2 separate regions of the Homo sapiens genome follow, and region 2 is linked to region 1. Evidence: fine-mapped expression QTL. A gene starts in region 1. The other region holds a variant in brackets. All regions are shown on one strand. Distances are between the middles of the regions.

Region 1 (12,924 bases):
GGTCAGGAGATCGAGACCATCCTCGCTAACATGGTGAAACCTCGTCTCTATTAAAAATACAAAAAAAAAAATTGGCTGGGCGTGGTGGTGGGCGTCTGTAGTCCCAGCTACTCGGGAGGCTGAGGCAGAAGAATGGCGTGAACCCGGGAGGTGGAGCTTGCAGTGAGCCGAGAACGCGCCAGCCTGGGCCAAAGTGCGAGACTCCGTCTCAAAAAAAAAAATAATGGCCAGGCGCGGTGGCTCACGCCTGTAATCCCAGCACTCTGGGAGGCCGAGGCGGTGGATCACAAGGTCAGGAGATCGAGACCATCCTGGCTCACACGGTGAAACCTCGTCTCTACTAAAAATACAAAAAATTAGCCGGGCATGGTGGCGGGCGCCTGTAGTCCCAGCTACTTGGGAGGCTGAGGCAGGAGAATGGCGTGAACCCGGGAGGCGGAGCTTGCAGTGAGCTGAGATCGCGCCACTGCTCTCCAGCCTGGGCGACAGAGCGAGACTCCATCTCAAAAATAATAATAATAATAATCTCTGTTCTACAATTATAACCTAGGAAAAACCAGGCCATACAGAGATAGGAGCTGAAGGGACACAGTGAGAAGTGACCAGAAGACAAGAGTGTGAGCCTCTGTCACGCCCGGACAGGGCCACTAGAGGGCTCCTTGGTCTAGCGGTAACGCCAGTGCCTGGGAAGACGCCCGTTACTTAGTTGACCTTGGTCTAGCAGTAACCCCAGTGCCTGGGAAGGCACTAGTTACATAGCAGACCTGGAAAGGGAGTCTTCCTTTCCCCAGGGTAGTTAGAGAAGACTCTGCTCCACCACCTCTTGTGGAAGGCCTGACATCAGTCAAACTCGCCCACAGCCATGCTGAGGCCTGACCGTCTCCCTGTGATGCTGTGTTTCAGTGGTCATGCTCCTGTTTCACTTTCATGTTCCACCCTGTACACCTGGCTCTGCCTTCTAGACAGCAGTAACAGAATTAGTGAAAGTACTAAAAGTCATTAAAATGCATAGAAGAAATAATGGCGTAAGCTGTCCTGTCTCTCTCTCCGCCTCGGCTGTCAAACAGGGAAGGACCCCCTGTCCGGTGAACATGTGACTCACATGACCTTATCAATCATTGGAAATGACTCACACTCTTTACCCTGCCCCTTTCGCCTTGTATCCAATAAATAACAGCGCAGCCAGGCATTCAGGACCACTACCAGTCTCCATGTCTTGGTGGCAGTGGTCCCCCAGGCCCAGCTGTCTTTTCTTCTATCTCTTTGTCTTGTGTCTTTATTTCTATGATCTCTCGTCTCTGCACATGAGGAGAAAAACCCACAGACCCTGTAGGGCTGGTCCCTACACAACCCAAGGGTAATGGCACTGTGAGCACAGACCCGGCCCCTGACACCTTGGGGACACCAAAATGGAAAACTCTCGCACTTGGGTCTTCCTGCATAAGTTAGTTTTGACCTTAGACCTACAAGCAAGGCAGTTAGTAGGAAATCTGGCCCTGCTGTGAGGAGCTAAACATACACACCTCCCACTGTAGAAGAAGGGACCTGCAGAGCTGCCCGGAGGCCAGGCCACATTGGCAGCACAGGACACGCCCTGTGGGTGCTTTGTACTCACCTGTGCACAGGCTGGCTTTGGCCACGCTCTGTTCAGCCACCTGCAGAATCAAGGCCCCCGGCTCCTCTCCTTGCTCCAATAGGGAGATCAGTGCTGGTTTGGCAACAAGAAAGCCTAAGCTCAGAGAAGGAAAGCAGCACGTATCAGTACAGGAGGGAGAAGGGACGCCCAGGTGCCTGGCTGGAGGCCATCAGGGCACAGAGTGCTTGGAGTGGGTCAGGAACATTCACTATCCCAGAAGGGGGCAGCTAGGTGGCCAGGGGGAGATGGGGGGCCTGCCCCAGGAGAGAAGCCTCAGGCAGGCTGACGCTGGCAGTGGGTGCCCAACAGGAAGCAGAGAGGGGCTCCTTGGGGAGCCTCCAGCTTCCCCTCAAAAATGTGTCAGACCTTGAATCTGCAATGGAACCAACTTCCTTTGAAGCTAACACAGACGCACCTCCCGGCCCCAGGACCAAAGGCAGAAGCCCTCACCTAGTGAGGCCAGGTTCCCATAGTTCTCCAGCATCACGTCCCTGTAGAGTGCCTGCTGGTCGGGGGCCAGGCAACTCCACTCTATCCTTGTGAAGTACACAGCCACATCCTCGAACACAACCGCCTCCTGCAACCACATACTCTGCTATCCAGGCAGTCAAGGGCTCGGTGAGAACCCAGCAGATGAGAAACATTTGCATGATCTGCTAGAGGCCTCTCTCCTTGCTGCCCACTGCTGCATCCACAGGGCCCAGCAGAGAAAGGGCAGCCCAACACCCCCCGAGTGAGCGGCCTCATTCTCAGCAGAAGCCCCAGAGAGGAAGAGGGAAAAACTGAACTTGGGGGAGGGAGAGAGATTTACCAGGAAGGGGGTCCCAACCTTGGCCTCGCCCTCTCCACAGGCTATCAGGGATTTGGGGAAGGAGCACCTGCACTGTGGGGAGCATCCCCACCCTCTGGGTCTCAATTTCTAACACCAGCAGTGAGTCAGCATCAGGAGAGGGAGGATGGGCTGACCATTCACACCAGGAAGGAGGCAGGCACTGGGGAAGGACAGGGACCCTGCCCTCAATGGCTGACCATAGAAGCTCAGGGGCCAGAGGAGGCCGCAGGAAGCCCACTTCTGCCCAAAGGCTGGAAGGATTTGGCAGAGCCATGTGTGAGGCCTGGCCATAGAGCGAGGAGGCTGTCCTCGGCTTGCAGACTCCATCCTGTGATGTGGGTGGGTGTGAGGCAAGCTGTAAGGTTCTCAGGGCTGAAAAGCTGAGGCTAGGGGCGAAGCAGTCTCCTGGGGCAATGGACGGGCTCAGGGGGTGCTCACCTGAGGTCCAGGCATCGGGAGTGCCATCGCCATTCCAGGGTCCCTCTGTGGAGGAGCAGATGCTACAGACAGTGAATTCTGAGGGAACATAGAGCCATGAGTGGAAAGAGCCCAGGCCTAAGGCCCTCCAGCCCCCCAGAAGGCCCCTCCAGATCCAGAAGGGAGCAGGAGAGGGTAAAGTGCTAGGGCAATCACATCAGCCGCCTCCTTCACGTCCCAAGGAGGTGTATCCAAGCTTCTCCATGGGAACACCCACTCCTTCCAATGTTTTCTGGCTCTCACCTTGCTGGGAGGCCTTCTGTGACCACCATTTTTTAAACTGCCACCTCCCCTCCTGCCTGGGAATTCCTTATCCTCGCTCCTTGCTTTATTTTTCTCCATAGCACTATGCCATCTGACATAAGACAAGTTAACTTCCTTGCTCCTTATCTGCCTTCCCCAATTAGACAAGGCCTCTGGTCTGTACCCCTAGGGCCTGAGGAAGGGCTTGGCACACAGCATGTGCTCAGAAAGGATTTATGAAATGAACAAAGCGTGACTGGTTAGAGCAAAATTATTGTTTTGTTTTGTTTGAGACGGGGTTTCGCTCTGTCGCCCAGGCTGGAGTTGGTGGTGTGATCTTGGTTCACTGCAACCTCTGCCTCCTGGGCTTAAGATTTCCTCCCAGGATGGCCAAGGTTGCACCATTGCACTCCGGCCTGGGCAACATTGCTCATTATGAAATGAACAATGGGTGACTCTGCAACCAATAAAACCATGTTGTGGGAACATCAGAAAACATTCTTGCATTTTACTACATGAAACAAGCAGACTGTAAGCAGAAAAATAAAGCTGGTAGCATAAAACTCTAGCTCTCTCTGCGTCATAGAATTATGAGTGGTTCCTCTTTTTCTCCTATTTTTCTTTCCTTTTTTTGAGACAGGGTCTCAATGCGTGACCCAGGCTGGAGCGCAGTGGTGTGATCTCAGCTCACTGCAGCCTCAACTTCCTGGGCTCAAGCAATCCTCCCACCTCAGCCTCCCGAGTAGCTGGAACTACAGGCGCATGCCACCACACCCAGCTAATTTTTAAAAGTTTTTATTATTGATGAGGTCTTACTATGTTGCCCAGGCTGGTCTTGAACTCCTGGACCCAAGTGATCTCTTGCCTCGGTCTCCCAAAGTGCTGGGATTACAGGTGTGAGCCACCACACCCGGCCTCTTTCTATTTTTCTAATTTAACACTTTTTTGGCCAGGTGCGGTGGAGACAGAGACCATCCTGGCTAACACGGTGAAACCCCATCTCCACTAAAAATACAAAAAATTAGCCGGGCATGGTGGCAGGCACCTGTAGTCTCAGCTACTAGGGAGGCTGAGGCAGGAGAATGGCGTGAACCTGGGAGGCGGAGCTTGCAGTGAGCTGAGATCGCGCCACCGCACTCCAGCCTGGGTGACAGAGTGAGACTCCGACAACTCGCTCTTGTTGCCCAGGCGGGAGTGCAATGGTGCAACCTTGGTCATCCTGGGAGGATCCCTTAAGCCCAGGAGGCAGAGGTTGCAGTGAACCGAGATCATGCCACCAACTCCAGCCTGGGCGACAGAGTGAGACTCTGTCTCAAACAAAACAAAACAATAATTTTGCTCTAAGCAGACGTATACAGAGTAGGCATGAGGCCCTGTTCTCCTCACTCTTCCCTTCAACAGACACTTGAGCTCTTGTGTTTGGGTGAAGGTCTCCGGGGCTATCCATTTCTGTAGAGCTGGAGCCGTCTAAGTAGCTGCCACTTTGTAAAGAGATGTTTCCCTTTAGGCATCAGTTAACAAAAAGCATGTGTTTAGAGGCCAGGCACAGTGACTCATGCCTGTAATTCCAGCACTTTAGGAGGCCGATGAGGGCGGATCATTTGAAGTCAGGAGTTCGTGACCAGCCTGGCCAACATGGTGAAACCCTTCTCTACGAAAAATACAAAAATTAGCCGAGTGTGCTGGTACGCACCTGTAATCCCAGCTACTTGGGAGGCTGAGGCAGGAGAACTGCTTGAGTAGACAGAGGTTGCAGTGAGCCAAGTGTGCCCCGCTGCACTCCAGCCTGGGCGACAGAGTGAGGTTCTCTCTCAAATAAAAATAAAGAGTGCGTTTAGAGGCAGGAGGGCTGCTTGGTCACAATGCTATGAAGTGACATTTGGCAGCAGAGCCCTTTTGACATGTTAGGGTACGAAGGGCGATGGGGGTGGATCAGACAGATTCGTGAATCACCCCTGCACAGAGGGCACAGACTGCAAACGCATGGAAGAGCAGGGCCACACCACCCCCACCCAGCCCCCACTCACTGTCTGTCCAGGGCAGTCTGTGGCAGGACCCACCTGGGCCACTGCGATGGCCACACGTGTTGTCCTCACCCCAACAAGGCAACCAGAGTATCTCAGGGTATGAGGCTGCCAGAAGACTTGATCCCCGACCCCTCAACACATACCACCCTCCACTCTGGTAAGAACTGCAACCCAGGACTAGGGTAGGACTTGGACTAGGAGCGGTAAGTTACTGCTGCTTTGTGTTTGCTCATGTCTAGGGAGTGCATGTCCTCAGGGAGGGGCTACCTGGTTAGAGGGGAAAAAAACCTGCTTTTAGTTCTATCTTCGGAATTAGGAAGTAAACCTTCAATCAGATTAAACAGCACTGAGCTAAAAATAATGGAGCAGTGATATGATGACAACAGATCAAGCTGTTGCTGAGACAGAAAATGTCAAGGGGAGGAGGGTGCTAATTTTAGATGAAGGACCACCAAGAAATGTTACTGGGGGAACTCATTTAACTGGGGTCTGGAAGACTAGGAGGGGTCACCTCCTTCCATACGCAGAATAAGCCCTGTTCCTCGGGGACCTGGGGCACCCGGCTCACTACGCCGCAGCCATGCCAGCCTTCTCTCTGTTCCCCCGCCTGGGAGTTTCTCCTCAGGGATCTGTGGCTGCTTCTCTCCTCCAGCAGGTTTCAGTTCAAATGTTAACTCTTTTTTGTTGTTGCTGTTGTTTGCGACAGAGTCTCCCTCTGTTGCCCAGCCTGGAGACCAGTGGCGCGATCTCGGCTCACTGCAAGCTCCGCCTCCCGGGTTCACGCCATTCTCCTGCCTCAGCCTCCCGAGTAGCTGGGACTACAGGCGCCCGCCACCACGCCCGGCTAATTTTTTGTATTTTTAGTAGAGACAGGGTTTCACCGTGTTAGCCAGGATGGTCTCGATCTCCTGACCTCGTGATCCGCCCGCCTCGGCCTCCCAAAGTGCTGGGATTACAGGCGTGAGCCATTGCGCACGGCCAAATGTTAACTCCTTACAGAGCCTCCCCTGACCGCCAAGGCTACCCTAACCCCCTAACTCTCACAATTTTATTTCCTTGGTTTATTCTGTGCGAGGCCCTTGTCAAAACCAGAAGTTATTTTGCTGCGTTATTGCCTGTTACACTAACGCCTCACCTCTATTACAATTCATGCTCCTGGAGGCGAGGCGGGCTGTTCGCTCACTGCGGGGTCCCCAGCACCGGAACGCTCACAGTTAAATACCCAACAGCTATTTACGAAATGACTGTTGGTCCAATAAATGCCCCAACCCGGGGAGGGGGCAAAACTGCGCAGGGTAAATGAACGCTGCGGGAAACGGCGTCCGCCGGGGAGCGAGGCTGCCGGGAAGAGCCCGCCATCGGACGGAAGCGAGGGGCAGAGCCTGGTCCTCCCCGGAGCAGCCCCACCTCGCCAGGCCTCCCCGCCTGCAGCCTCATCTCTGCGCAACCGTCCGGCTCGGCGGAGCGGGTCTCGGGGGCCCGGCCGCACGCCCCCGACCACAGCCAGCATGGACCGGGGCGCAGGGCCCTTCGCCCCGATAAGGGTTCGGAACCCAAGGCGAGCGGAGGCGACAGTGACGGCTGCGGGTCCGCTCCCTGCCGAGCTCCGCGCGCCCACTGCGGGGGCTACAGCCTCCACCAGGCCGGGCTCGGAGGACCGCGCCCCTCCCAGTCCCCGCCCCGCGGCCGCGGCCGACTCACCCTGGGCCGCCGAGACAGCGCGGGGAGGAGCGCACGGCGCCCGGCTCTCAGGCTCCGGTTCCTTCCCCGCCCCCGGAAACGGCCGCTGCGCCGCTCTGGGAGGCCTGGAGGACCGCGCGCCTCGATGGCGCTCGCGTCTCGACGGCTTCTAGCCCCTGCGGCGCGGCGGTCGCCAGGGCCCCAGCTAGGGGCGCGCCTGGGGGGTTCCGGGCCAGACCGGGTATCAGTCCCAGGCCCGACGGGCGCGGAAGGGCGTCGACGTTCTCGGCGCTCCGTTTCCCCCGGGATCGGAGGCAGCGAACGTTCACCCCTTGCGCCCACTCTCTGCCCCCGGGTGGCCTGCGGGGGTTGGGGAGCACGGTGGGGGATCGACTCCCGGACCCGCAGGAAGGGCGGAGCGGGGGCGTCCGGCCAGGGTCGGTCTCATATAAATTTATGACATTGTTTAGTATGACTTTTTTTTTTTTTTTTGAGCCTGAGTCTCGCTCTTGTTCCCCAGGCTGGAGTGCAATGGTGTGATCTGGGCTCACTGCAACCTCCGCCTCTCAGGTTCAAGCGATTCTCCTACCTGAGCCTCCGGAGTAGCTGGGACTACAGGTTCCCACCACCACGCCCGACTAATTTTTGTATTTTTAGTAGAGACGGGGTTTAACCATGTTGCCCGGGCTGATCTCGGACTCCTGATCTCAGGTGACCCGCCCGCCTCGGCCTCCCAAAGTGCTGGGATTACAGGCGTGAGCTACCGCACCGGGCCAGTTTCTGGGATCTTGAAGTGTCTTTGCTGCTCCCTCTGATCACTCTCAGACCACCTCTCCTGTCTGCACCCAAGGGTGGCCATTCTGACTTCTAACAGCCCTGTGACTTCTGTAAACATTTGTATGCTCTTTGTATTTACTAATTTAATCCTCATGGTAATCCTATCAAAATACTACTGTTCCCATACTAAAATGAGGAGAGCATAGTGTCCCTGTTATTTGCCAAGGTCTAGTCTCTTTTTTTGAGACGGAGTTTCACTGTTGTTGCCCAGGCTGGAGTGCAATGGTGCCATCTTGGCTCAACATTATCTCCACTTCCCAGGTTCAGGTGATTCTCCTGCCTCAGCCTCCCGAGCAGCTGGGATTACAGGCATGCGCCACCACGCCCGGCTAATTTTGTATTTTTAGTAAGGAGGGGGTTACTCCATGTTGGTCAGGCTGGTCTCTAACTCCCGACCTCAGATGATCTGCCAGCCTCGACCTCCCAAAGTGCTGGGATTACAGGCGTGAGCCACTGTGCCTGGCCAAGGTCTCATCTCTTAAGTAACAGAGCTGGGATCCAACCCACAGACCTGGCTCCAAGTCACATATTCTTTAGCCACTAAACTGTGTTGTGAAACCATCATGCAAGTGGGAGGAACAGTTCAATATATGAAACTCGGTGTTTCCCGAGTTCCCACTCACCTCCACACACACTTTAGAGATGGTTTCACACACACTCTAGGTTTTCAGATCCTCTGAATTGCAACCAGACCCTGGGAGGAGGAATGAGGATCAAAGAAGGTAAGGGACTCATCCAGAGCCACAGCTGGTTGGGAGCCGGGTCAGATTTGAGCACAAGACAGACCAGGAACCATCATTTTCTTCCTTTTCACAAGGACAGGGGAAACTGGGTGAGGAGGGTGATATCTGTCTAAGTAGGCTTAGCCCAGCACTCCACTATGGGTGGTGCTAAACTTGTATGATGTCTACATAGATCCTTGTCCCAGGACTGGATGCCCCTAGGTTCCTCAGATTCTTTGGGGGACCAAGGGTGTCTCCTGCATTCACACTGCTGACAGCGGATTTGCTCAGGAGTGAGGCACAGGCTGGGTAGGACAGAGGCACTCTTCACCAGGAGGGAATTGTGGGTACTTGCTGTGTCCTGACAGCCACAACCATCTTTGGGGGAGGGATCATGACTCCCCTCAGGGCCATGGCACATAATTTCAGACAATATGGGTATTGTGGTGAACTTGGATGTCCAAAAATTGTATGTAAATCCTGTGCTATTCTCTCATTGTAAAAGGATGCCAAAACTTCAACTATTTAATCACACATGTGAAGGGGTGGGTTGCCCCTCCACACCTGTGGGTGTTTCTCGTAAGGTGGAACGAGAGACTTGGAAAAGAAAAAGACACAGAGACAAAGTATAGAGAAAGAAATAAGGGGACCCGGGGAACCAGCGTTCAGCATATGGAGGATCCCGCCAGCCTCTGAGTTCCCTTAATATTTATTCATCATTTGTGGGTGTTTCTCTGAGAGGGGGATGTGTCAGGGTCACAAGACAATAGTGGGGAGAGGGTCAGCAGACAAACACGTTAACAAAGGTCTTTGCATCATAGACAAGGTAAAGGATTAAGTGCTGTGCTTTTAGATATGCATACACATAAACATCTCAATGCTTTACAAAGCAGTATTGCTGCCCGCATGTCCCACCTCCAGCCCTAAGGCGGTTTTTCCCTATCTCAGTAGATGGAACGTACAATCGGGTTTTATACCGAGACATTCCATTGCCCAGGGAGGGGCAGGAGACAGATGCCTTCCTCTTGTCTCAACTGCAAGAGGCATGCCTTCCTCTTATACTAATCCTCCTCAGCACAGACCCTTTACGGGTGTCGGGCTGGGGGACGGTCAGGTCTTTCCCTTCCCACGAGGCCATATTTCAGACTATCACATGGGGAGAAACCTTGGACAATACCTGGCTTTCCTAGGCAGAGGTCCCTGCGGCCTTCCGCAGTGTTTGTGTCCCTGGGTACTTGAGATTAGGGAGTGGTGATGACTCTTAAGGAGCATGCTGCCTTCAAGCATTTGTTTAACAAAGCACATCCTGCACAACCCTTAATCCATTTCACCCTGAGTTGACACAGCGCATGTTTCAGAGAGCACGGGGTTGGGGATAAGGTCATAGATTAACAGAATCTCAAGGCAGAAGAATTTTTCTTAGTACAGAACAAAATGGAGTCTCCTATGTCTACTTCTTTCTATACAGACACAGTAACAATCTGATCTCTCTTGCTTTTCCCCACACACAGGTGGGGTCCCAGAGAATGTTCACCCATGGCTTTATGTCAGGTTGACATGACGTATCCAAGCCATATAGACGGCAGGGGTCATGGAGATTTAGCACTCACTAACTCGTTGTGCTTCACAAAACAGCACCTTAACCCCTCTCAGAAAAATTCTAACACGCACCTCCAAGCTGTCCCCAAGCATGTGCAATCTCCATCCTCCCAACCACCCCACCTCTTCCTGCTGGCATTGGTCCCTGGGGTCTCCCCTCACCCACTCCTGAATGGGTAACAGGGGCTCCTATGGACTACCCCACCCCTGAGGCACTGAAAGCACATGGGAAAACTATCTCAGAGAATCTTGTTGGAAATACCTTTTCACAAGACATAGCTCCACAATTATAAGACACTAAATTAGAAAAGCAGCGTGCATGAGGTGGGTCATGGTGGCTCACACCTGTAATCCCAGCACTTTGGGAGGCCAAGGCGGGTGGATCACGAGGTCAGGAGTTCAAGACCAGCCTGCCCAAGATGGTGAAACCCCGTCTCCACTAAAAATACAAAAAATTAGCTGGGTGCGGTGGCGGGCGCCTGTAATCCCAGCTACTCGGGAGGTTGAGGCAGGAGAATCGCTAGAACTCTGTGGGCAGAAGTTGCAGTGAGTCGAGATCGCGCCACTGCACTCCAGCCTGGGCAACAGAGTGAGACTCCATCTCAGAAAAAAAGAAAAGAAAAGCAGTGTGCATGAAAAGTACTTAGATCAGTCCCTGGCCCATAAAAAGTGCCTAGCATTGGCCAGGCACGGTAGCTTATGCCTGTAATCCCAGCACTTTGGGAGGCCAAGGCAGGTGGATCACCTAAGGTCAGAAGTTCAAGACCAGCCTGACCAATATGGTGAAACACCGTCTCTACTAAAAAATACAAAAATTAGCTGGGCATGGTGGTGTGCGCCTATAGTCCCAGCTACTCGGGAGGCTGAGATAGGAGAATCGCTTGAACCCGGGAGGCGGAGGTTGCAGTGAGCCCCGATCACGCCATTGCACTCCAGCCTGGGCAACAAGAGCGAGACTCCATCTCAAAAAAAAAAAATATATATATATATATATTCATTCATTACGGAGTGATCCCATTTTAGCCATATGTGATGGTGTGCCCATATGTGGCATACAATTATGCTACGGGGGCGCGGTAGGGGGCAGGGAGATAAGGACACATCAGTTGTTGGGGATTGGGGGTGCGGGCAGATAATGCTGGTTGGGGAGGGGAGCCAAGCTGAGCAAGACAGAGGATCACAATTTCTCATGTTTCTACCAAATTACTGCTGCATGTATGTGACAAGAAACATTTGAAGAACAATTTCAGAAGGAAATAACTTTTTTTTTGAGGCACAGTTTTGCGCTTGTTTCCCAAGCTGGAGTGCAATGGCACAATCTCAGCTCACCACAACCTCCACCTCCTGGGTTTCAGTGATTCTCCTGCCTGAGCCTCCCGAGTAGCTGGGATTACAGGTACCTGCCACCATACCCAGCTAACTTTTGTATTTTTAGTATAGACGGGGTTTGTCCATATTGATCAGGCTAGTCTGGAACTCCTGACCTCAGGTGATCCGCCTGCCTCGGCCTCCCAAAGTGCTGGGATTACAGGCATGAGCCACCGCACCCGGCCGGAAATAAATAATTTCTAACAATAAAGTTTGAACAGCAGGTTGGGGTGACGTCGGATGGCATAAGGGAGGTCACCAGGCCACTAGCACAAGCAGAGGCACTGTGTGGGGAGGGACTAATCCTGGCCTAAGAAAGATGGCTCCACCCCAGAAGGCTGGAAAACCCCATGTCCAGTGCTTGCGGCCTCGTCTGGAGTGGCTGTCAAGTGACCCAGAACTGCATAGCCCCTGCTGTGTACCAGGCTGTGTGGTCTCCCGTGAAGGTCAAGACTGAGCCCAGTCACACAGTCCTCAGGACTGTCAGGTGGATGCTGGCAGGGCCATGTCTCTTCCAGCCTTAAAGCGGCCTGGTCAGTCTCCTGGCTGCACGTAGGGTCTTGGTAGCCGCATCTCATCCCAGAGACCCGTGAGACCATCTTGGGGACCCCACAGCCTGTGTGTCCAAGCACTCTTCTCACCTCTATCCCGCACCCAACTCTCCTTCTGCTCCTCCAGAGAAGCAGATTTGTTCAGGAGTGACGGACAGGCTGGGCCTGTGGGCCAATTTTGGGCTGACCCCAGAACCCCTCACCCTGCCCCCAGGGTCCAGTCCTGCCCCTCAGCCCCTGGCCCTAGCTGTGGGCTGTGCTGCTTCCTGAGTCCCCACCGGGCAGCTCCTCCTCCATCCCCCTGCCGACCCTAGGGGAGGGCCTCCTGCAGCAGCCCCTCCTCTCCCCTGTGAGCAACAGCGGGCACAGGACACCCTTCCACCCTCTCCTGTCTCCTTCTCACGATGTCAACCCTGCCTCAGCCCCTGCAGGGTCTAGGAAACACCCCACCTCCCAGTACCGACAGCAAGCCTCTCCCGCCCACTGGGACCCCCGCCTTCACCTCCTTGCTGCCTCCCCACCCACGGCCTCGCGTGTGCTCGACAGTGCTCACTCAGCCAGGGACTCTCTCCTGGAAAACCTCTTCCCCACCATCCCCCACCCGCGGCCTCGGGGTCCCACCCGTTAGGGGCCCGATTCCGCGAAGCCCCTCTCCACAGCACGTACCGCAGGACACCCCCAGTCGGGCTGACTCTTTCCAGCTCAGGCCCCCACAGCCCCTCCCAGCCTCCATTTCTTGCTCCTTCCCCACCTCTCCCGCACAGGGTTCTGGTCAGGGTACGGTCCAGTCTCCCATTATTCGTCCACTCCGCAGCATGTGACCCAGCCCATCCCCGCTCCTTCTTCCTCGACCCGGGACCCTCCAGCTTGGCCCTCCCCACTTCCTGGGCCGGCCGGCCCTCACCCTCGGCAAGGATCCCGGGGCTCCTCTCCTCGACGCCCGACCTCTCCA
Region 2 (16,153 bases), 110 kb before region 1:
TTTTTTGTTTTTTTGGTTTTTTGTTTTTTTTAGTAGAGACGGGGTTTCACCATGTTAGCCAGGATGGTCTCGATCTCCTGACCTCGTGATCCACCTTGGCCTCCCAAAGTGTTGGGATTACAGGTGTGAGCCACCGCGCCCGGCCGGTTTGTTTTTTTCTTTTGTTTTGTTTTCTGGAGACAAAGTCTGACTCTGTCACCCAGGCTGGAGTGCAATGGTGTGATCATGGCTCACTGCAGCCTCAAATTTGTGGGCTCAAGTTATCCTCCTACCTTAGCCTCCCATGCAGCTAGGACTATAGGGGTGTGCCACCACGCCCAACTACCTTTAAGTTTTTTATTTTTATAGAGACAAGGTCTCACCATCTTGCCCAGTGTCATGTTGAACTCCTGGGCTCAAGCAGTCCTCCTGCCTCGGCCTCCCAAAGTACTGGGATTACAGGCATGAGCCACCACACTCAGTGGTTTTTGCTAAAGAAAAAATAATTTTCTCTAGTTTAGAGGTTATTTACAGGTTGTTTCAAAATGAAAGAAAAATCATGTAAGTCTAAAGGGATCTAAAAATTTGGGAAAAGGAAAAAAATAGAAAAAATTTGTAAGAAGTCATAAATGGGTTCTGGAAATCTTGTGTGGTCAAAAGCTGAGATTGGATGGATTAGTTTATAAGGTTGTATTAAAATTAGCTTTAGTATTGATAATGGATTAATATAAAAATAAAATTTGGTTTTCTCTTTTGAACAATAATTTCATGTATAATATTAATAACAGACAGCAAAATATTTTTGTTCACCTTTTGAGTAAACTCCAAAAAAATAGGGAGAGGAGAGACAGATTCTGTCTCATGCTGTCTTTCTTAGGTCTTTTAGTTGTTCAAAAAACTGAGTCTCCTCTCTATCATTATTTTTTATTATTTTAATTTATTTAGTTTTTCTTCTGCCTATTGAAGAGTAGAGGTTTTTGCTTTCTGAAATCTCTGAATTATCACTTTGGCTAAATGAATGACTATTATCTTACAGTGACCTGTCATCCTATGTTGATCGAGTGTTTTAAACCTTTCTTATTTTAATATCTGGTGTTTTAAACCTTTGATATTTGACACACTTCCCAAAATCACGTTTCAAATTCTAAAATTAAATCTTTTTGACCTGAACTAACTTGGACGTAACAGTTAGGGCCCCTGGTGGCCAGGCATGGTGGCTCATGCCTGTAATCCCAACACTTTGGGAGGCCAAGGTGGGCAGAACACTTGAGTCCAGGAGTTCAAGACCAGCCTGGACAACATGGTGAAACCCTGTCTCTGCAAAATATACAAAAATTAGCTTGGCATGGTGGCTCATGCCTGAGCCTGGGAGACAGATGTTGCAGTGAGCTGAGATCGTGCCACTGCACTGTAGCCTGGGTGACAGAGCAAGACCATGTCTCAAAAAAAAAAAAAAAAACACAACTTGCCACATTGTTTCCAGGCACAGTGGCTCATGCCTGAAATCCCAGCACTTTGGGAGGCCAAGGTGGGAGGATCACTCACAGAGTTCAAGATCAACGTGGATAATATAGCAAGACCCTGTCTCTACAAAAACATAAATTAATGAATTTTGAAAAACCAGGCCAGGCACAATGGCTCACACCTGTAATCCTAGCACTTTGGGAGGCCAAGGCAGGCAGAGTGCCTAAGCTCATGAGTTCAAGTCCATCCTGGGCAACACGGTGAAACCCCATCTCTACTAAAATACAAAAAATTAGCCGGGTGTGGCAGCATGCACCTGTAGTCCCAGCTACTCAGGAGGCTGAGGCAGGAGAATTGCTTGAACCCAGGAGGTGGAGATTGCAGTGAGCTGAGATTGCGCCACTGCACTCCAGCCTGTGTAACACAGCGAGACTCCGTCTCCAAAAAAAAAAAAAAAAAAAAAAAATTAGGGTCCCTGAAAGGCCAAGAGAGATATATTAGGCTAATTTGGTATGTTAAAATTATGTAGGAAACATTGTCAAATAAGAAATGGTGTCTAGGCCAGGCACGGTGGCTCATGCCTGTAATCCCAGCACTTTGGGAGGCCGAGGTAGGTGGCTCACCTGAGGTTAGGAGTTCGAGACCAGCCTGGCCAACATGGTGAAACCCCCATCTCTACTACAAATACAAAAATTAGCCAGTTGTGGTGACACATGCCTGTTTTAAGTTTCTTCATGATGTTTTTAGTTGGCTCATTAATGGAATAGGTTATTTTTTTTCCATTTTGGCATACAAATTGTCTGTCCTCTATCTCTCTGTCTCTCTTTTTTAAAAAAAGAAACAGGATGTTACTCTGTTGTTCAGGCTGGGGTGCAATGGCACAATCACAGCTCGCTACAGCCTTGACCTCCCAGACTCAAGTGATCCTCACATCTCAGCCTCCACAGTAGCTGAGACTACAGGTGTGTGCTACCATGCCCGGCTAGTGTGTGTGTGTGTGTGTGTGTGTGTGTGTGTGTGTGTGTGTTTGCGTTTGTGTGTGTGTATAGAGACAGAGTCTCATTATGTCGCCAAAGCTGGTCTCAAACTCCTCAAGCATTCCTCCTGGCTTGGCCTCTCAAAATGCTAGGATTACAGGTGTTAGCCACCACACACAGCCCAGATTCTCTTTTTGATTGTAATCTTTCTGCACATTATATTTCTACTATTCAAGTTATTGTTACATATCTCTCATTTTACTTCTTCTGAGAAAACAAAAATGGTATTTGTATTAGTCTGTTCTCACGCTGCTGATAAAGACATACCCAAGACTGGGCAATTTATAAAAGAAAGAGGTTTAATGGACATACAGTTCCACATGGCTGGGGAAGCCTCACAATCATGGTGGAAGGCAAGGAGGAGCCAGTCACGTCTTACGTGGATGGCAGCAGGCAAACAGGAGAGCTTATGCAGGGAAACTCGTTTTTATAAAACCATCAGATCTCATGAGACCCATTCACTATCACAAGAACAGCTCAGGAAAGACTTGCCTGCATAATTCAACCACCTCCCACCAGGTTCCTCCCACAACGGGAACTGTGGGAGTTACAATTCAAGATGAGATTTGGGTGGGGACACAGCTAAATGATATCATTCCACCCTGGCCCCTCCCAAATGTCATCCTCACATTTCAAAACCAATCATGCCTTCCCAACAGTCTTCCAACGTCTTAACTCATTTCAGCATTAACTCAAAAGTCCACAGTTCAATGTCTCATCTGAGACAAGGCAAGTCCCTTCTGCCTATGAGCCTGTAAAATGAAAAGCAAGTTAGTTACTTCCTAGATACAATGTGGGTACAGGCATTGAGTAAATACAGCCATTCCAAATGGGAGGAATTGGCAAAAACAAAGGGGCTACAGGCCCTGTGCAAGTCCAAAATCCAGCAGGGCAGTCAAATCTTAAAGCTCCAAAATTATCCCCTTTGACTCCATGTCTCACATCCAGGTCATGCTGATGCAAGAGATGTGTTCCCATGGTCTTGGGCAGCTCTGCCCCCAAGCTATTCCTTGGCCCCTTTCAGTCATGGCTGGAGCAGCCGGGACACAGGGCACCAAGTCCCTAGACTGCTCACAGTAGAGGGACCCTGGGCCCAGCCCACAAAACCATTCTGTCCTCCTAAACTTCTGGACCTGAGATGGAAGAGGCTGCTGCAAAGGTCTGTGACATGCCCTGGAGACATTTTCCTCATTGTCTTGGTGATTAACATTAGGCTCCATGTTATTAATGCAATTTTCTGCAGCCAGCTTGAATTTCTTCTCAGAAAATGGGATTTTCTTTTCTATCTCATTGTCAGGCTGCAAATTTCTCAAACTTTATGCTCTGTTTCCCTTTTAAAACTGAATGCCTTGGCTGGGCATGGTGACTCACCACTGTAATCCCAGCATTTGGGAGGCAAGGCAGGCAGATCACTTGAGGTCAGGAGTTCAAGACCAGCCTGGCCAACATGCCAAAACACCATCTCTACTAAAAATACAAAAATTAGCCAAGCATGGTGGTGTACATCTGTAATCCCAGCTACTCAGGAGGCTGAGGCAGGAGAACCTCTTGAACCCAGAAGGCAGATGTTGCAGTGAGCCAAGATCATGCCACTGCACTCCAGCCTGGGTGACTGACAGAGGGAGACTGTCTCAAAACAAAACAAAAAAACCTGAATGCCTTTAACAGCACCCAAATCAACTCTTGAATGCTTTGTTGCTTAGAAATTTCTTCTGCCAGATAACATAAATCATCTCTCTCAAGTTCAAAGTTCCACACATCTCTAGGGCAGGGGCAAAATGCTGCCAGTCTCTTTGCTAAAACATAACAAGAGTTACCTCACCTTTGCTCCAGTTCCCAAGAAATTCCTCATCTCCATCTGAGATGACTTCAGCCTGGATTTCATTGTCCATATCATTTTCAGCATTTTGGTCAAAGCCATTCAGTAAGTCTCTAGGAGGTTCCAAATTGTCCCACATTTTCCTGTCTTCTTCTGAACCCTCCAAACTGTTCCAACCTCTGCTGTTACCTGGTTCCAAAGTTGCTTCCACATTTTTGGGTATCTTTTCAGCAACTGGTACCAATTTACTGTATTAGTCTGTTCTCACACTGCTGATAAATACATACCCAACACTGGGCAATTTACAAAAGAAAAAGGTTTAATCGACATACAGTTCCACATGGCTGGAGAGGCCTCACAATCATGGTGGAAGGCAAGGAGGAGCAAGTCACATCTTACATGGATGGCAGCAGGCAAAAAGGAGAGCTTGAGCAGGCAAACTCCCATTTTTAAAACCATCGGATCTCACAAGACTCATTCACTATCACCAGAACAGCACAGGAAAGACTCACCCCCAGTCATTCAACCAGCTCCCACCAGGTTGCTCCCATGACGTGGGAACTGTGGGAGCTACAATTCAAGATGAGATTTGGGTGGGGACACAGCCAAACCATATCCGTATTCCAAAGACTAGAGATGATTCAACGAAGCTGGCAAATCTCCCTCCTCTGGAACCCTACTGGGCCCAGTCTGTTTTCTGTCGGCAATGCTCTGCGGCTAAAGCTATATATCAAGCACTCTCCCTGTGTGCCCAGGGACTCCTCCAGAAGAGGAGGGCATGTGAGGTTGTAAGGGTGGGTTTCACTGAGTGGAGTGTAGGAAAATAGCCTGTCGCCTGGCAAGAATGATGCCCTCTTGAGGCAAAACCACTATGATGAGCAGTGGTTGACTCCTGCATACCAAAGGGTCCTGCAGCAAGGTCTTTATACAATGCCTGTAGCATAGATAACCCCTCATAAGGATGCTTATCTAACCTCCCCATTGGTCACAAGTTTTGCAGGAAAGTCTGAGACATAACCAGCTGCACATGTTTTACCAAAAAAGCTTGCTACTTTTTGGAGGGCAGGTGCAGGGATCCATCATCTCAAAGCTGCCTAAGACATTGCTTCTGTTTCTAAGTCCCTGTTAAATGTTTTCTTCTGGGAAACTGGACTTATCAGCCTCTTTCTTTGACCTCTCATCTCTCTCTGCCTTTGGCGGTAGATTTGCATAGACCTGCTCCCTGCAAAACATACTTCTCACATGGCATAATGAGCAATCTGGGGCCATTTTTTGATGTTTGATAATTGTCAGTGTTTAAGTCTCACCCTCCCTCTTTCCTTTGTGCTCACATCTGGGGAAACTGGTAAGAAAGCCTGGGTGCTCCCTCTGGTGACACTGGAAGATTCGAACCACACAAGCCCCTGCCTGTATGTGGGAACCTCCCATCAGTCCCACCCCCAACCACAATAAAAACCCAGTCCAGCCTCCTTTCCTTGCTGTCTCAAGCCATTTTGGACCTGCCTGGGAAGCCTCGCTGCTGCCCTCAATTATGTATAAAATAAACCTTTTCACACCCCCCTTGGGGTGTATGTTTTTGTGTGACATCATCAGTCTCAAAATTGTGGGTGGGTCATCTGAGTCTGCAGGTAACCACACAGTCGGCACTGTCAGCAGATGTCTGGGTGATGACCACCCCACCCAGTGGTATGGCTTCCATTGCCTCAGCATATTCATTCACCAGCTCTCTGCTGGCTGGCCAGCATGTGCTCTGAGCTGTACTGCTTTGTGTGTCATTGTTGAGTCCAACAGAACCCTCCAAAAGAAGCTCCAGGGCCTGGGGGGAAAATAGGGCCTTTACTGGGCAAATTTCAGCTGGACCACTCGCCTAAGGCTTGAGGGTCAAGAACCACAGTCACCACCAGCCCCTGTTGTGTGTGGGGAGGGGTGGGGAGCACCGTGGCTCCCAGAGACCCCATGTGGCTTCTGTGTGCAGAGTTTTCTCTGCCCATGGGCTAAGGTCTGAGCAGTTCCAAATGTCAGAACATCAACTGTGGAGACTGCTCCCCTATGGAAATTTGATATAAGCAAATGATGGGTTAGGGATAAATGTCATATGTGGGTATTGGAATAACCAGCTAGCCATTTGGAAGATAAAATTAGATCCATTCTCCACACCATGTAGCAGAATAAACTGCAAATGGAACAGAGAGGTAAATGTAAAGAAACAAAACCAAACAAGTACTAGGTGAAAACATGAATAAATTATTCTAGAAACTGAGAGGGAAATTTTTACTACTACTAAAAATCAAGAAACAAAAGAGAAAATATCGATAAATTTAACCACATGAAATTTTTTTACATGACCAAAACCAACATAAAGTAAAAAAATGACAAACTGAGAAAAATATTTATAACATATTACAGCTAGCACATATAAAATAATATACAAAAGATTATTTTAAGATTAGACTTGTCAGGCCGGGGTGGTTCCTACCTGTAATCCCAGCACTTTGGGAGGCCAAAGTAGCAGGACCACTTGAGCCTAGGAGTTCAAGACCAGCCTGGGCCACATAGGGAAACCCTGTCTCCACACAAAATTTTTTTTTAATTAGCCTGGTGCGGTGGCACACTCCTGTGATCCCAACAACTTTGGAGGCTGAGGCAGGAAGATTGCTTGAGTCCAGGAGGTTAAGGATACAGTGAGCCATGATGGCACCACTGCACTCCAGCCTGGACAACAGAGCAAAACCCTGTCTAAAAAAGATTAGGGTATCATTTTCAACAAATGTTGAAACTACTGAGTAACAATATACCAACGAATGAACTCCAGTCCTTACCTCATACAATGTATAAAAATCGACTCAAAATGTATGATCAACTAAATGTATAAAATTTAGAAGAAGAAAACATAGGAGTTCGGGCACCGTGGTTCACGCCTGTAATCCCAGCACTTTGGGAGGCCGAGGCAGGTAGATCACAAGGTCAGGAGTTGAAGGCCAGCCTGACCAACATGGTGAAACCCCATCTCTACTAAAAATTAGCCAGGTGTGGTGGCACGCGCCTGTAGTCCCAGCTACTCAGAGGCTGAGGCAGGAGAATGGCTTGAACCCAGGAGGCACAGGTTGCAGTAAGCCAAGATCGCGCCGTTGCACTCCAGCCTGGGCAACAGTGCAAGACTCTGTCTAAAATAAAAAAAAAAGAAAGAAAGAAAAAAGAAAAAAAGGAAAAAAAAATAGGAGAAAACCTTACAGATCTTGACTTGGCAAGAATTAATTAATTTTATTATTATTAGTTTTTGTTTTATTGAGTGCTTGTGTGCTAAACACTAAGTGCCGGGGCTACATCAGTGAACAAGCAGCCTCCACCTCCAGGTTCAAGGGGTTCTCCTGCCTCAGCCTCCCGAGTAGCTGAGATTACAGGTATCCACCACCATGCCCAGCTACTTTTTGTGTTTTTAGTAGAGATGGGGTTTCGCCATGTTGGCCAGGCTGGTCTTGAACTCTTGACCTCAAGTGATCTTTCCGCCTTGGCCTCCCAAAGTGCTGGGATAACAGGCATTGGCCACCGCACCCAGGCTATTATTATTTTTTGAGACAGGGTCTCATTCTGTCACTCAGACTGGAGTGCAGTGGTGTGATCATGGCTCACTGCAACCTTGACTTCCTGGGTTCACTCCCACCTCAACCTCCCAAATAGCTGGGACTACCCGTATGTGCCACTATGCCCAGCTAACTTTTGTATTTTTTGTGGCCACGTTCCTCAGGCTGGTCTTGAACTCCTGGGCTTAAGCGATCTGCCCACCTTGGCCTCACAAAGGGCTGAGATGACAGGTGTGAGCCACTGTGCCCACCCAAGAATTTACTAAATAAGAAACAAAAAGTATGAACTTTGAAGGAAAGAAATCCATTAATTCCTTTATCAAAATTTAAAACTTTTGCTCCTCAAAATGAAATGAAATGAAAAGGTACAACTGTGAGAAAGTATTTGCAAAACATATATTTGCAACATAGGACCAGTATCCAATCCTATAAAGAACTCATAATAAGACAAATGACTATTTAAAATGGGCAAAAAATGTAAACAGCTGCTTCACCAAAGAATATATGTACACAGCAAACAAGCACATGAAAAGACCCTCAGCAACATTAAGCATTAAAGAAATGCAAATAAAAACCACAATGAGGCTGGGCACAGTGGTTCATGCCTGTAATCCCAGAACTTTGGGAGGCCAAGACAGATGGATCACTTGAAGTCAGGAGCCCGACACCAGCCTGGACAACACGGCAAAACCCTGTCTCTACTGAAAATACAAAACTTAGCCGGGCGTGGTGGTGCGCACCTGTAATCCCAGTTAGTT[G/A]GGGGGTGAGGCAGGAGAATCACTTGAACCCGGGAGGCAGAGGTTGCAGTGAGCCGAGATCACGCCAAGGCACTCCAGCCTGGGTGGCAGAGTGAGACCCCATCTCAAAAAAAGAAAAACACAATAAGATGCCACTGTACTTCCACCAGCATGGCTAATTTTGTACAAATTGACAATACCAAGGGTAGGCAAGTATATGGAGCAACTGGAGCTGCCACATACTGCTCGAGGGGGGGTCAAGTGGTGAAAAACACTTTAGAAAGAGGTTGACAGTTTCTTTAAAACAAAAGCAGGCCAGGCGCAGTGGCTCACACCTGTAATCCCAGCACTTTGTGGGGAAGAGGCAGGTGGATCACTTGAGGTCAGGAGTTCGAGACCAGCCTGGCCAACATGGTGAAACCCCATCTCTACTGAAACTACAAAAATTAGCCAGGCGTGGTGGTGCCTGCCTGTAATCCCAGCTACTCAGTTGGCTAAGGCAGAAGAATTGCTTGAACCCAGGAGGCAGATGTTGCAATGAGCCTGGATCACGCCACTGCACTCCTGCCTGGACAACAGAGTGAGAGTCCATCTCAAAGAAGACAGAGAGAAAAAAAAGAGAGAGGGAGGGAGGGAAAAAGAAAGAAAGAAAAAGGAAAGAAGAAAAAGAGAAAAAAGGAAGCATAGATACACACAAAAACTTACATACAAATGTCTGTAGCTAAAAAATGGAAACAACCCATGTCCAATATCTGGTGAATGGATTAAAAAGTTATCGTACATACATACAATGGAGTATTGCCCAACAATTTAAAGGAACAAACTATTGATATATGCAGCAAATGGCTAAATCTCGAAATAACTATGCTGAGTGAAAGAGGCCGGACCCACCCATACTCCAAAATAATGTATCTTCTATGATTATATAATATCATACAAACTACAAACTGAGTTAGAGTGACAGAAAGCAGACCCAGGGATGGGGGCGTTTGGGGCTGATGGACCTGTTTAGTATCTTAATTGTGGGGATAGTTTCACAGGCATCTACTTAGGTCAACATTTTCATCAAACTAAAAGTATGTTCAATTTATTGTCTGTGCAATTTATACCTCAATAAAGCAACAAAAATACAGCAGTAAGGACATAGCAGTCAAATATATTTTTAAAAATCAATTTATTATCAGCCTTATAGTATATTTCCCCATAAGAAATGTTTATTTCTCTTCTCTGAACAGAGTATTTCTAAATATCCTCAGTTGTACATATTAATTAGGTTGAGGATAAACTGAATGATAGTTAATGAAATCAGATCTGAGGATATGAATTTTAAATTGATTTTTAAGTTTACTCTTTATCACTTATCTGGTGTCAAATTGATTACCTGTAAGTTCTCACATTGCATCACAAAAACACCATCAGGGATTTTTGGCAATTTTTTTTTTTTGAGACGGAGTCTCGCTCTGTCACCCAGGCTGCAGTGCAGTGGCGCGATCTTGGCTCACTGCAAGATCCGCCTCCTGGGTTCACACCGTTCTCCTGCCTCAGCCTCCCAAGTAGCTGGGACTACAGGTGCCTGCCACCACGCCTGGCTAATTTTTTGTATTTTTTTTTTAGTAGAGATTGGGTTTCACCGTGTTAGCCAGGATGGTCTCGATCTCCTGACCTCGTGATCCGCCCACCTCAGCCTCCCAAAGTGCTGGGATTACAGGCATGAGCCACCGTGCCCAGCCTGATTTTTGGCAATTTTTAATGTTAAACATGGCACTTTACCCAGCTGAAAAAACACATTTTCCTAATCACCCTTGGAGCTAGAATTGGTCTTGTAACACACTTTAGACCAAAAATACATAAGTAAAAGTCACAGGGTGCAGTTCTGAAAGACATGGGGTTGGCTGAGCATACATTTGATTTTGTCTTTTGTTTTTTCTCTTTCTGCCTGGAATCTGGATGTGATTCTAGTGATGAAGCAGTCTTCTTGCAATCATGAGGCAAAAAAAAAAAAAAAAAATGAAAGCTGCTTATTAAGATGGCCAATGGAAAATAAAGGGGGAGCCTAGAGGCCTGGTGGCATTGTGTGGCCTTGGATGGGCTCCGTATTCCTAGAAAAATTGACTCATAAAAAAAACCACCTATTTGGTTCAGCCACTGTAATCAGCTTTCTGTTGTACAGTCAATGCCAATCTTAAGTGAGATAGTAACATAATATGTTAAATTGGTTAAAAAAAATGTGAACACAACCTCAAAAGAATAGTTTCCAGCATAGCACTTCTGGTCTCTCTCTCTCTTTCCATACACACACACACACACACACACACACACACACACACGTTTGTATGGTTTCTGGCTCATAACTGCCATAGCCCTTGTTACACTCGTTTGTTATAACATTGGATGCATTAGGCTTCAGAGAACAAAATCTCTCTGACCTCCTGCCCGCAGGACCCTAATCTTCCCCTACCTCTCTGATTGTGGGTCATAAGACCATCATTCCAGAGAGGGTCCCACCTCATAGCCTGGTGGAAAAAATATCGATGTCATGAAGCTTCCATGAAAACCCAAGAGGACTGGGTTTGTAGAGCTTCTGGAGAGCCGAACACATGGAAGTTCCTGGAGGGCTGTGTGCCCTGCAAGGGCACAGAGGCTCTGCACCCCTCTCCCCATGCCTTGCCCTACACATCTCTTTATTTGTATCCTCTGTAATATCCTTCATTATAAACTGGCAAACATAAGTAAGGGTTTCCCTGAGTTCCGTGAGCTGTTCTAGCAAATCAAACCCAAAGAGGGAGTCATGGAAACCCCAACTTGAAGGAAGTCAATCAGTTCTGGAGGCCCGGGCTATGACTCACGTCGGGGACTGGGGAGTCGTGAACTGACTTGAAGGAAGTCAATCAGTTCTGGAGGCCCAGGCTGTGACTCCTGTCGGGGATTGGGGAGTCGGGAACTGAGCCCTCATCCTGTGGGATCCGGCACTATCTCCAGGTAGACAGTGAAGGAGCTGAACTGGAGGACACCCAGTAGAATTGATGGCTTGCTGATGAGGAGAAATCCCCATATATTTTGGGGCTACATAAGTCTTCTGTGTTGTTAGTATGAGAGCAGAGGAAAAATAGGGTTTGAGAGTTTTTCTGAAACAATTTTCTGGTCTCCTAAGGTAGGTGTGGGTTTGAATCCCACTTGTGGCAGTGTGAGAGCAGAAAAAAAAACAGTTTGAGTTTTTCCAAAACAACTGGTGTCAAAACATGGCGAAACCCCATCTCTACTAAAAATACAAAAATTAGCTGGGCATGATGGCAGGCGCCTGTAATCCCAGCTACTCAGGAGGCTGAGGTAGGAGAATGGCTTGAACCCAGGAGGCAGAGGTTGCGGTGAGCCAAGATCATGCCATTGCACTCCAGCCTGGGCGACAACGAAACTCGGTCTCAAAAAAAGGATAAAAAATAAAAAAAGTAAACTGTATACTCATGAACGATACGTAAATTGTGTGTATATATATTATATATATCATATACGATTTGTTGCAGGGACTGTGCCTTACACCATTGTGGCACATAGTTAACAGTTCCTGTAAGGCTGTTGTCTTTGCATCTGATGCTGGAACAGGGCAGACAGTTGGGAAGGGAAGATGGATGTAAAGTGAGGAGAGACAAGTTGAGGTCTGTGACCTCAAGCTGGAGCCCAGGATGCGCTGAAACCCCTTTGTTGCCCTATAGGAGAAGCTGGAGCCTTTAGTCTTGGAGCTGAAGGAGCCAGAGGAAGAGGGGGCAGCTGCTGCCTCATGTCGCCCAGGTGAACCAGCAGACACAATGGCACCTGCCCAGACCTTCTGTAGTCCTCACCATCTCTGGACACACTCTGTAATTCCTACATTTATTCTGCGTATTGCCTACTGTCTCCATTCACATGTATGGTCCAGAAAGACATGGATTTGTTAGGCACTTGCTTGTTCACTGATGTAGCCCCGACACTTAGTGCTTAGCACACAAGCACTCAATAAACATTGTGCTGTTGAAGGAAAAAGAGTGACAGAGACACAGAAGGGACGTGCTAGAGAGGATGTCAGCTGCTAAATCTAAGTGAAGGGCACGGAGGTATTCATTGTATTATTCTTTCAACCTTTATGAATGTATCAACATTTGCAAAATAAAAAAGTTGTGGAGGAGGAAGAAAAACAAAAACCAGGATGCACTGAGGTCTGAGGTGAAGGTCCTAGGAGCATCAGTTCTCTGTTGGGATCAAGGTTGCTGGGACAGAGCTTGATCCCTGTCAACTGCTAAAACAATCCAGGACAATCCAATAGTAGAGCTGAATTTTGATTACCTTGGTCCTGAGCTTCACAGCCCTTTGGCAGAGGAAATCCTGTGACACTGAGGTGTAACCACAAGACTGGCCCAAACTGACCCTATTCTGTTGGTAACAGGAGGTATAGCAGAGCCAAAACTGAAAGTCATGTAACCCGGACATGCACAAAGGAGGAAAATCATAACTCGGAACCAACGTTTCCTCCCTGTGGAGCCAAGAAGACAGGGACATGACCGGAGCTTGAGGGGCGGAACGCTTTCAGAAGGGAAGGGTCCATTATCCTGGAAGATCTGGTGCTGAAACCTGCCATTCCACACCTTACCATAAATGGCCAAGTTTAAAGCCCTCCTATTGAAACCTGCCCGCCAGCACTTCTGTGTGCCAACCTGTCCTCCCTAACCCGTCGACTTTGACCTAAGCCCACATGTGGGAGCCACATTTGAGCCATGCCTCCGGTCTCCTTGGCCGTCGACCTTGAAATAATAAAGCCTTCTCTTTTCTCAAAAACTGGTGCCACCGTTTTGGCTTCTAGTGCGCCAGGCAACGGGCCCATTGCTCGAAACGCGCGTGGTGGATGGTAGCTCCGTGAAGTGCGAACCCCTGCCCGCAAGGGCTGCTAAGTTCGCTGAAGCGTAGCACAGACTTCGCGTCTGCCTGGTGCGCGGCAAGTACGGAATTATCGCCACATCCTCCCGGCCTCCGCTCCCAACAGCACGGGCCGGGCACTCGCTTCAAGCCTACCCCCTAACCTTAAGCCTTCCCCGCCGCCCCCACGCAGCCCCCAGCCCCGCCCTGTGGGGAAGCCTCTTGAGAGTCTGGGCCCGCCCACGCGCCCAATGGACGACGCGGACCTGACCTTCGGGAGTGGGGCCAGCAGAAGGTGGACTAGGCGTCAGCCTTCCCGTCCCCTGACACCGCTCCAAACCAGCCCCACCCTCCCTGCCGCGGCTGTCAGGTCCTGGGCTGTGCCCGAAGCCTCCACACGGGTGTGGCCCGCGCCCTCGTGAAGGCCCGCCCCTCTCCCCCAGGTGCGCGGTGTAAACACACCAAAAAGCAAACACCAGGGCCGAGTGGGCGACGGAGACGGTCGCTGTTCAGTGACGCCCCCTGTCGGGAGCACGCCGGGCCGGACACAGCGAAGAGCGGCTGCGCCTCGGACCTCGCAGCACTCAGCCTCCTAAGTGGGAGGAATAACCTCACGCAAGTCATCAAACAAGAGGACTTCAGTGTTGCAACGAAGGAAGAGAAAGGGCCCCTGAGAAGGCGACATTCGCACTGCAGCGGCGCAGGGACCAGCCAGGCGGCTGAGGGCAAGGTCGTTCCCAGCAGCGGGAACCGCAAGGGCAAAAGGCTCGGAGGGGGGAACGAGCTCGAGTTCCAGGACGGCCGAAGCCAGCGCAAGTCGAGGAGGGACTGCGGGGCCGGCAGGGGTGTCCTCCACAGGGCGACGGCGGCAGGAGCTCGGGAACCGGGACTGCGAGCGGGTAAGGCTCGGCGATGGGCTGTAACCTCCGCGCCCGGAAGTGCGGCCGGGGAGCCGGCCGGGCCCATTGCCCAGAGGTGTTCGGCCCCTCTAGGGATCGCGGAGGTCTGGCTCTCGGTGGCTCCTGAGAGCTCCCTGCAGTCGGTCACCGAGAAAGGCTTCGGGCGGGCAGGCGGGCCAAATGACGTAAACATGCTTGCCCTCCAGGATTGGCGAACTCGGCTGTGGGGGCGGGAACTGAGGGGCAGGAGCCCCCAGGGATTGGCGGCTGCGCAGACGGGGCGGGGCAGCCCTTTGTCTGAAGGTGCTGCGGGATGCCGTTCCTTCGCGCGTGAGGCTGCGGCTCTGACGGTGAGTGGGGGGCGCGTGTCGTCGCCGGCCAGGACCCTCTCCCATCACGGACACCGGAGCCGGTGCGTCCTCCACACGAATCGTGGACTCTTCCCCGCGAGCACGCACTGCCTCCTGCGTTTACGCTGGTCCCCTCCCCTCACGGACGCGCGGCGGCCTCCTCCCCAGGGCCAAGGCCGCGCCCTCTCCCCCGTTCGGGGTTCCCACCCTTCCCCTCGCCCGGCCTTGGACCCCCTCAGGCCCTCCCGCACCCCCGTCCGCCTCGGACGGCCTCGGTCCCTTCCCCGCCCCTACCCCCTTGGGCCCCGTCAGACCGGCGTCCCTCCCACCTTGGATCTCCTCAGATCTCCGGCCTTCCTCCCCCTCGTGCCCTCCCGCGCGCTTTCTACCGGGCGCCGTGCCTAGGGCCAGGATGGCCGGAGTCCTAGGGGCGCAGTCCGGACCCCCGGGCCGCTCTTCTTGCCGCGCTCCTCGGGGTCTCGCGTCCCCTGGGATGGGCCCGGAAAGGGGTGGGGAGCTTCCCCAAAATATAAAAATGGAGGTTTTTTCTGTTTGATGCACATCCTGAGGAGCCCCATGAAGACCCCGGCGGCGCACCGGGAGCGCCACTTTACTTAGCTATAAAAAGTCTTCCCGCGTCAAGACGAAAACGAGCTGCTTTCGTTTCAGCAGTTGGTCGAGTGTGCTACTTGCCGGGTGTCTTATCCTCTCCCCATTTTGCTGTCGATGCTGTCTTTTCTGTTACTGTGTTAGAGCCCTATTTTAATGAATGAGCCCAACTCTTTGCAACACAGCAAATATTTTCCTTGTTGTTTATTGGCTTAATTTTAAAATTGAAAATAATATGCAATACTTCTTCTAATGCAGGCATGTCAGAAATATATAAAAGTCATCCCCCCCGACACTCTGCCAGTGTATGAAGAGGCAGGAGCTGTGAACAGTTTCAGAATTTTTGAATGCCGTTAGAGCTTTAGGCACGCACGCACACCCTTTTTTCTGTCATCAAAGGGAAGCTGGTGTCGTTTGACTAACACCAGGGGCGGCAGGGGGCGCTCCACTCGTCCTCCGCCGGGTGGGTACTCGCAGATTTTTCAGTTCGTAACTTGTCTTCTGGACATAGGTTTCTCTGTCCGGTGGTCTCTACGAAGTGGGTAAGGGTGGGAGATTGCCATTGACATTCCCGCCCTGGACGGGACTCTGGTCCTGTGGGCTTTGACAGGTCACTGCATTCCTGCCAGGTCGACGTTTTGCGTTTATTGGTGAGATTGAAATCCCTTCATTTGTGTTTTCGCCATTTGTATTTCTTTGTGATTTGCCAGCTCATATTTTTTTCCATGTATGTTGAAAACATGCTTCTCAATTTGTCTTTTGACTCTGATTATGGTGTTTGATTCTGGTTTGGG

Direction of the effects. Alleles are on the strand shown, and positions count from the first base shown. SD is a standard deviation of normalised expression in the study named.
For the expression in amygdala of the gene that starts at base 6,941 in region 1, allele A in region 2 goes with a higher level than allele G (moderate effect, 0.42 SD a copy in GTEx).

What was found. PIP is the estimated chance that this variant, and not a neighbour inherited with it, causes the effect. A credible set is the group of variants that fine-mapping cannot tell apart.
Region 2: its variant is the best candidate, but not a certain one, in a credible set for the expression of ZNF517 in amygdala (GTEx, PIP 0.52).

The regions. Positions count from the first base shown.
Region 1 is chr8:144,792,930-144,805,853 of GRCh38, reverse strand. ZNF517 (zinc finger protein 517) reads right to left here and starts at 6,941. Exons shown (of 5, transcript NM_213605.3): 1 at 6,917-6,941; 2 at 2,907-2,984; 3 at 2,087-2,213; 4 at 1,616-1,729. The coding sequence starts at 2,939. RefSeq lists enhancers at 3,840-4,737, 4,738-5,636, 5,637-6,534, 6,439-6,548, 8,333-9,231 and 3 more and silencers at 6,579-6,778, 6,799-6,958, 7,099-7,348.
Region 2 is chr8:144,899,996-144,916,148 of GRCh38, reverse strand. It overlaps ZNF250 (zinc finger protein 250), which reads left to right and starts at 14,696. Exons shown (of 6, transcript NM_001109689.4): 1 at 14,696-14,750. It overlaps LOC124902042, which reads right to left and starts at 14,525. Exons shown (of 1, transcript XM_047422534.1): 1 at 13,868-14,525. The coding sequence starts at 14,467. The coding sequence ends at 13,868. RefSeq lists silencers at 13,763-13,842, 14,903-15,012 and enhancers at 13,539-14,142, 14,143-14,745, 14,746-15,350. The variant G/A (reference allele first, on the strand shown) is at 8,639.